Linked DNA regions of Homo sapiens. The protein of the gene in region 1 purifies or fractionates together with the protein of each later gene. This does not show direct contact. Each region holds a gene or a part of one and is shown in the gene's direction. Other genes may lie near its edges.

Region 1 (4,372 bases):
TCTCTACTAAAAATACAAAATTAGCCGGGTGTGGTGGCACGCGCCTGTAATCCCAGCTACTGGGGAGGCTGAGGCAGGAGAATTGCTTGAACCTGGGAGGCGGAGGTTGCAGTGTGCCGAGATTGCACCATCGCACTCCGGCCTGGGCAAGAAAAGCGAAACTCCGTCTCAAAAAAAAAAAAAAAAAAAAAAGAGAAAGGAAAAGAAAAGAAAGTGACTGGACAGGTACTTTAGATTGGGTATGTCAGGAAGTCCCGTCTGGGGAAGCGACATTGAAGCTGATAAGTGAATGTCAACAAGGCAGGCATTCTGAGCTTTGGAGAGAAGAGCACTCCAGCAGGGAGGACTACCAGAGCAAAGTCCGGGCGGCCCACCAGAGCAAAGGCCGGGAGGGCCAAAGGTCCGTGCGCCTTAAAGTGTGGGAAAGTAGTGAAGATGGGGAGACAGGAAGGCAGGGGCCAGATTTACCTTTGCAGGCTAGAGTAGAGTTTTGATTTTTTTTTTTTTTTTTTTTTGGAGACCGAGTCTCGCTCTGTCGCCCAGGTTGGAGTGCAGTGGCACAATCTCGGCTCACTGCAACCTCCGCCTACCCGGTTCAAGCGATTCTACTGCCTCCGCCTCCCGAGTAGCTGGGACGACAGGTGCGTGCCACCACGCCCAGCTAATTTTTTGTATTTTTAGTACAGACTTGGTTCCACCATGTTGGCCAGGATGGTCTCGATTTCTTGACCTTGTGATCCGCCCACCTCGGCCATCCAAATGCTGGTATTACAGGTGTGAGCCATCACACCCGGCCAAGTTTTTATTTTATTCCAAGTGTGATAGAGAGAGACATGATCTGACTTATATGTTTTGAAAGATGGCTCTGGGACTGTTATGTGGCTACTGGGCTGTCCGGAGGGGAAACTGAGACCCGTTTGGAGGAGAGGGAAGTTGGTGGCCTGGATAGAGTGGTGGCAGCAGTTCTGGAGAAAGTGGATGGATCTGGGTTATGTGGTGAGTCAGAGTGGCCAGGAACAAATGACAGGCAGATGAATTAGGGTGACCCTTAGATTTCTGGCTGCATGCAACACTCGGGTAGTTACTGGGGAACCGAGCAGACGCTCAGACACTTCCGAGCCTTGAGAAATCCGTTCTCCCGCCAGGCTTCGGTGTGAGTTAAAGTCGGGCAGCCGGAAAGCGACAGGCTCAGACCCGCAGCCGGTGGCCTCGTAGCGCCGGGACGCCGGGACGCCTGGATACCGGGAGAGCGCTGGGACTCTCCGAGCCCGGCGCGGGGGTTTCCGCATCTTACGGGCGGGGCCGGAAGAGGAAGTCGCGCTGCTGTGGCGGCCGCTGTAGCAGCGGCGGTCCAGTCGTAGCCCGGCCGCCCGCGCCTGTCCGGTCCGGTCCGGCCACGGAGGCAGCGCAGCGGCGGGACTCCGAGCCTACCCCGCCGAGTGAGCTGCGCCGCACCGTGCCGTCCCACCCGGCACCCACCAGTCCGATGGGGCCGCAGCGGCGGCTGTCCCCTGCCGGGGCCGCCCTACTCTGGGGCTTCCTGCTCCAGCTGGTAAGGGGGCGGGAAGGCGCGCAGGCCTCCCAGGGGCTGGGCGGGGCCGGGGCCAAGGCCGGGGCTCCCTTCCCCTACTCCTCGCCCGGCCTCCCCTCTGCCCGCACCTCCGCGGCCTGCTCTCGCACTCCTCTTTCCTCCCCTCCTCTTTCCATTACTCATCTCTTTCCTTCCACCCTCCTCTTTTCCACCCTCTTTCCCCCAACTTTCCCGCCCCCCACTCGGTTCCCGCCCATTGAAGTCTGGCGAAATACCTACCGCAAAAAGATCAGAGGAGCCCCTTAGGTTGCGTTGACCTTGATGCTTCTCGATAGTTGCTCACTGTCCCAGCATATTTAAAATTGACCTCTGGGTTTTATTGTCTAAGCCTTTCTTACCGCTTTTTACCCTTGGGAAGAAAAAAAAATTATACAAGGCGCCAGTATGTTTAGCGGTTCGAGGACTGCACTTTAATTGCACTAACACGGATGTCTTTTTAAAATTCCCTTCCCCCACTGTAGCTCCTGCTTCGCCTTAGGGCTCATTTGATTCTGTTATGAGGGTTTTTTTTTTTTGGAGGGGGGGTTTTAATAGCAGTAATTTAAAATAACTTTTAAAAGAAGACACCAAAATGTAATGCTTTTAGTGGTTTTCAGTTTTCTGCCTAATTTAAAGGGATGGGTGGGGAGCGTCGGTTAAATGTAAGTAAGAAATATGTGTTCATAGATTTGTTTTCATAGTCACAGAGAAGTAATAGTGTTTTAAAATTCAGCCTCAAGTAATTCGAGCTTCAGTGTGGGAGTGGGGTGTCAGGAACCCGGTGTTTCAGTTTTTGTTTCTAGTGACTTTTACTTAGGGAGTTTCAGGTTGGAAACTTACGCATGTTATTTATTACAGAATTGGTGTCGTGTAAGCTTGTTTCGTTCTATTAGAATGTGTGATTTCTTTGAAAGACTGTTTTGCTGACTCTCCAGTTTAAGGGGTTAGTATTAGTGAATACAAAAGTGTCTTTAATATTTATTGAAAAACCAAAATCTAAGCCAAAAAGTAAGTGCCTTTTGGTGTATTCATAACTTTGACAGGCAACATCAGGAACCTGAGAGAATGTATCTAAAAATTGCTGGGGGAGGGGAGTTCGATATAAAAAGAGCAACAAAGTAGCAGTGTTAGTCGGAGTCTTTAAGGTGTTTACTGTGTAATCAGACAGATAATACTTATGTCCAAAAGATATTCAGATAGTATGTAGATGTATGCAAAACTATAACCTAGATATAAAACTTTTCAAAGTGTTTTTGCATTCATTTTCATTTGAATCTCTTGAGCTGATTTTAAGAATGAATATCACATTCGTACTAATCCCTTCTCAACATAAATTAATAGCTTAGTGATACATCAGTTCCTCATAAACTCACATTGAAATTCTTATTAAAGGCCCTGAGCCCTCTCACCAGAAAACTCTACTTAAGTAGACTTGTCATTTGATTTCATAGCCTTCACAAATCTAAAGATCATCCCTGTTCTAAATTGTATCTAGGCTGTCTCCCACGTTCTGGATTTTAGGCCTTTTTTTGTTGTTGTTTTTGTTTTTTTCGAGACGGAGTCTCACTCTGTCGCCCAGGCTGGAGTGCAGTGGCGCGATCTCGGCTCACTGCAACCTCCGCCTCCCAGGTTCAAGCAATTCTCCTGCCTCAGCCTCCCGAGTAGCTGGGATCACAGGCAAGCACCACCATGCCCAGCTAATTTTTGTATTTTTAGTAGAGATGGGGGTTTCACTATGTTGGTCAGGCTGGTCTCGAACTCCTGACCTCGTGATCCACCCTCCTCGGCCTCCCAAAGTGCTGGGATTACAGGCGTGAGCCACCATGCCCGGCGATTTTAGGCCTTTTATATTGCACCTATGTGCTTTGTTGTACCTCACCATGGTAATCTCGGGTTCTATATTCCTCGGTTCTAGGGTTGTTGTGAAGATTAAGTAACATTTTTCTACACTGCAAATGTTTGGTGTGCATCTTATTATATGGGATGTAATGTCCTGATGACTGAATAAACTGACAATATCTGTTTAAATTGTAAGGATCTTTTTTCGATACCAGCTAGTATCACTGATTTTTCTATTTCTTGTTGATTTCTTTATGGATTTGTTTTCTTCTTGGTTCCTCCTTCCTTTAATTTCCTGAGATGTTCTTTCTCATTCCTTTCGTGTTCTGAGAACTTGGGTAGATCTGGTTTCCTTTTCCTCAGCTGGAGTTCTTTCTCCTTTCTGGATACCTAGTTCCTTTCCTCCAACTCTGTCTGAAGTCTTCTACCATTTTCTCCCTGAAGCCCTTTGTTTATTCCTCTTCCCTAATTTTACAGCTCTAGGTAGCCTTTCTGAGTTCCTTTGATTAGTGATGCCAGCTCAATCATTTCATTTCTCCTCTCTGGGCTCTTGAAACTGGCACTACTTGTCCGGGCGTGGTGGCTCACGCCTGTCATCCCAGCACTTTGAGAGGTCCAGGTGGGTGGATCACAAGGTCAGGAGTTTGAGACCAGCCTGGCCAATATGGTGAAACCCCGTCTCTACTAAAAAAAAATACAAAAAAAAAAAAATTAGCCGGGCGTGGTGGTGCGTGCCTGTTATCCCAGCTACTTGGGAGGCTGAGGCGGAAGAATTGCTTGAACCCGGGAGGCAGAGGTTGCAGTAAGCCAAGATCGTGCCACTGCACTCCAGCCTGTGTGACAGAGCGAGACTCCATCTCAAAAAAAAAAAAAAAGAAAAGAAAAAAAGAAACTGGCACTGCTTCCCCTTAGTCATGTAATAACAGGGCCAACATCCTCATCTATAATGGAAGCAGCACGTAG
Region 2 (3,815 bases), on another chromosome or scaffold:
AAGGCTGCATGTATAAGGCATATATGAAACATAAATGAATTTCATGTCTAGACCTGGGTTCCATCACAAAGATATCTCATTATGTATATGTAGACATTCCAAAATCAGAAAAAATCTGAAATTCAAAGCACTTCTGGTCCCAAACATTTTGGATAAGGGATACTCAACCTGTATGGGCTTAGATCGTATCTAAAAGTTACTCAATTAGGCATGAAAAAGAATTATTTACCACTTATTCGTTAACATCTTAAACTGGTATTTTAGTGTTCCCAGGTTCTATTTAGTCTCTTGGCCAAAGTCATGGTGAAAGAAACAGCTTTAAGAATGTGTAAAAGCCTTAATTCATAAACCTGTTGTTAGAATTAGCAAGATATATTCAAATACTCTTAATTTTAGAAATGTTCTCTTTATTTTAAGGTCTTGTGTGAAGGACACCTTGCTTTGTAAAATGATATTTCTTTGGGGCCATTACCTTAACCTGTATCCATTCCTTCATGAATTTTAACTTGTATAAGGTGGCTTGTTCTAAAAACCTAAGTGGGTAAATATAAGAAATGAATGGTAATAAAGCAGTTAGTATCATACCCGTCTTTATCCATGCTACATTTTTTATTTTTCTCAGTCTTATTTTTCTACTTTCAAAAAGATAATGTATCATATAATAGGGATCATTATAAAGCAACTTTTCATACTTTAAAATTGAAAATTACCAGCTAGTAAGTTCAGAACAAAATTACCAGCTAGTAAGTTCAGAACAAAATTACCAGCTAGTAATGCAGAATAAATGATAAAAGTTTTACTCTCACCATTTTTTACCTGTTGATAAAATGATGGATTTAGAGTAGGCAATGATCAGCAGTCACTACTAAAACCATTAAGTAAAAGGCTGATGGGGAACTTTATACTGAGTGGATCAGACTGAATGATCATTCACAAATGGAGAGATAACTAGACATTATGTGCCTTATCATAATATGCAGTAAGAAGTACACAACATTGACTACTAGACGTTCCCACCCAGAACATTGCACCTGAATTCCATCAAGTCTCTAGCTCCAAATGCCAGTTTACAAGAAATACAGAGGATAAAGGAATAACATGGGAATGCAATCAACAAAATCCAGGACGTGGGAAATGCCACAGGATAGGGGTTGATGGCAAGGAAAAAAGGAAAAACAAGGAAGAAAGCCTAAAGATTAATGAACACTTACATCAGCCAAATGATTGTGTTAACCTTACTTGGATTCTTACTTGAAAACCAACTTTGAAACAATAGGGGAAATTTGAACACTATTTCCTGACTTTAAGGAACTGTTTTAGATTATTTCATGTGTTATAATACTATTGGGGTTATGTTTTTAAAAAGTGTTATCTTTTAGAAATAAAGTATAAAAGTATTTGTAGCTGAAGTGATAAAATATCTGAGATTTGCTTTAAAAATAATCGGGGAATGTAGATGAAGCAAGATTAGCCATGTGTTAATCTTTGTTGACATGGTGGGGGTTCATTGTACTTTTCTCAATACTTTTGAATATATATGGAAGTTTTCACTGTAAAAGTTTTTTAAAAATCACATCTCAGGCCAGGCGTGGTGGCTTACGCCTGTAATCCCAGCACTTTGGGAGGCCGAGGCGGGCGGATCATGAGGTCAGTAGTTAGAGACCAGCCTGACCAACATGGTAAAACCCTGTTTCTACTAAAAATACAAAAATTAGCTGGATGTGGTGGAGTGCACCTGTAATCCCAGCTACTCAGGAGGCTGAGGCAGGAGAATCACTTGAACCTAGGAGGTGGAAGTTGCAGTGAGCCAAGATTGCGCCATTGCACTCCAGCCTGGGTGACAGAGCGAGACTCCATCTCAAAAAAAGTCACATCTCAAAAGTTGTAGAATGCATGTAATTTAATTTCTGTGATTTTCTCTAATCCAGTAGTTCTTAACCCATACCCCATGGACAGGCTTGAAGGAGTTCCTAAATATTCTGCATTTGGGTCAACTCCTTGCCTTTATGTGTACTTTCCAGGTGAAGAATCCTTGGGCAATATGCCATTTTGAGAATATAGAGAAAGCAAATCCTAGAAGCACATCTCTCTCTAGCTCCTCATCACAAATTAGGAATCATTTTAGCACAGTTTTGCAAATTTTTCATTCCTAGGGGCCTGAACAAAGCAAGGACAACAAAAATATTTGACTCTTCTAATAGGTTAATGCAGTTTGTTGGCCTCATAATTTCTTACATTTTTTAAAAGCACTTTTAATAGAATATTTTAATAATTATTCCTTTCATACTTACTTTGGCAGAACTTCATTAAACATTATTTTCTAATTTCTATATTCCTTAACTAAAATTAAAACAAACTTAGATTTGTTTTTAAAACTCTTAATACAGGCTTGTTGCATAAAATAATAATAAAACATATATTTTACCACTAGGATTAAGTTTGCAGCAGTAGAAAAATATTAAACCATGGTATACAAAAAAACTAGTCATTTAACCTTTCTCAAAACAGATGGTATAATAAATGTATAAAAAGGCAAGCTGTTATCAGCTAAAGGCTCACAAATTGATTACACAGTGAAACTGAAACTTGCATCCTGTTGGGAACATACATATTGGTTTAGTTGACTGGCATGAGGGAAAAGGCTGATTTAACAAATAGATAAATGTAAAAAAACAAAGTCATTCCTATTCTGATAGATCCCTTTCAGATTTAAAAGTTACTAACGATTTTGATGTTGTGGCTGTTTTAAACATAGTTCAAAGAACTTTGACTAATTCAGCTTTTTTTTGTACTGTGCTTTGTTTATTTTTATAGATATTTGGGCTTTGACTTATATTCTCATTGGTGAGCTCACTGCCATTTTCTTCCTAATTCTTCTTTAAAGAACTTGGGCTGGAAATTCTGTAGTCACCAACCTTAGCTGATAAGTATTTCTGCTATTGTTAGCTTAGTGTTCCATCTGCCCCCTTACTGATGCCATGGCTGTGACATCTCAGTTGGGGAAAACAGCTGCTTCATGAGATCTCTAGCCTTAACAGTTGTCCCAGTGAAAATGAGCAGGGGGGTTTCATTGCAAAGACAACTGGCATAAATGTATGAATGAATGCCAGATTAGTAGCATGTTAGTCAAAAGAGGAATTGAGATCAAATTGAAAGAAAAGCTGAATATGATAGATGAAGTCTACAGAAAGTATCACACATACTGACTGAAAATATTTCTCTGCAGATGGAATCTGCCTGTGTTTCAATTCACGAAGCTCTGAAGTCTGTCATCGATTATCAGACTCATTTCCGTTTAAGAGAAGCTCAAGGCCGAAGCCGAGCAGAGGATCTAAATACAAGAGTGGCCTATTGGTCAGTAGGAGAAGCCCTCATTCTTCTGGTGGTTAGCATAGGGCAGGTATTTCTTTTGAAAAGCTTTTTCTCAGATAAAAGAACCACCACAACTCGTGTTGGATCATAACTACGTTTTGAGAATTGATGCACCATTGCCACTGTAATATTGCTGTCCTCTAATTAATTTTAGGTACTGAAGAACTTAATATTGGCAACATTTTTAAATCCTTACTCATACACTTGTTGGGAGGGATGTACAATGCATATTCCCAAACTGTGGAAAGGACACCTTTTTTTATTTGTAAAGGTGGAAAAACTTTGGAACTCATTTTGGGCTATTCATGTTAAATATTCAACACCAATGATCTACTCTGTTCGCAGTTGTTTATATCTACTCTTCGCACACTAAACTTTGGTATTTTGATTCCTTTTAACCATTTAAGACTACTTTTCTTATAGGTAGTTGATATTTTAAAAAC

The links.
Region 2: the proteins of SPPL2A (region 1) and TMED7 fractionate together in Homo sapiens (co-fractionation; one large-scale study listed by BioGRID). This does not show direct contact.

The regions. Positions count from the first base shown.
Region 1 is NC_000015.10:50,762,648-50,767,019, reverse strand, and holds the start of SPPL2A (signal peptide peptidase-like 2A isoform 1 precursor), read left to right. Parts: upstream 1-1,313; 5' UTR 1,314-1,486; coding exon 1,487-1,552; intron 1,553-4,372. UniProt on the Homo sapiens protein: Intramembrane-cleaving aspartic protease (I-CLiP) that cleaves type II membrane signal peptides in the hydrophobic plane of the membrane. Functions in FASLG, ITM2B and TNF processing.
Region 2 is NC_000005.10:115,615,857-115,619,671, reverse strand, and holds part of TMED7 (transmembrane emp24 domain-containing protein 7 precursor), read left to right. Parts: intron 1-472; exon of another isoform or gene 473-533; intron 534-3,226; coding exon 3,227-3,463; 3' UTR 3,464-3,815. Other genes in the region: TMED7-TICAM2 (TRAM adaptor with GOLD domain isoform 1 precursor), read left to right, coding at 3,227-3,354. UniProt on the Homo sapiens protein: Potential role in vesicular protein trafficking, mainly in the early secretory pathway. Appears to play a role in the biosynthesis of secreted cargo including processing and post-translational modifications.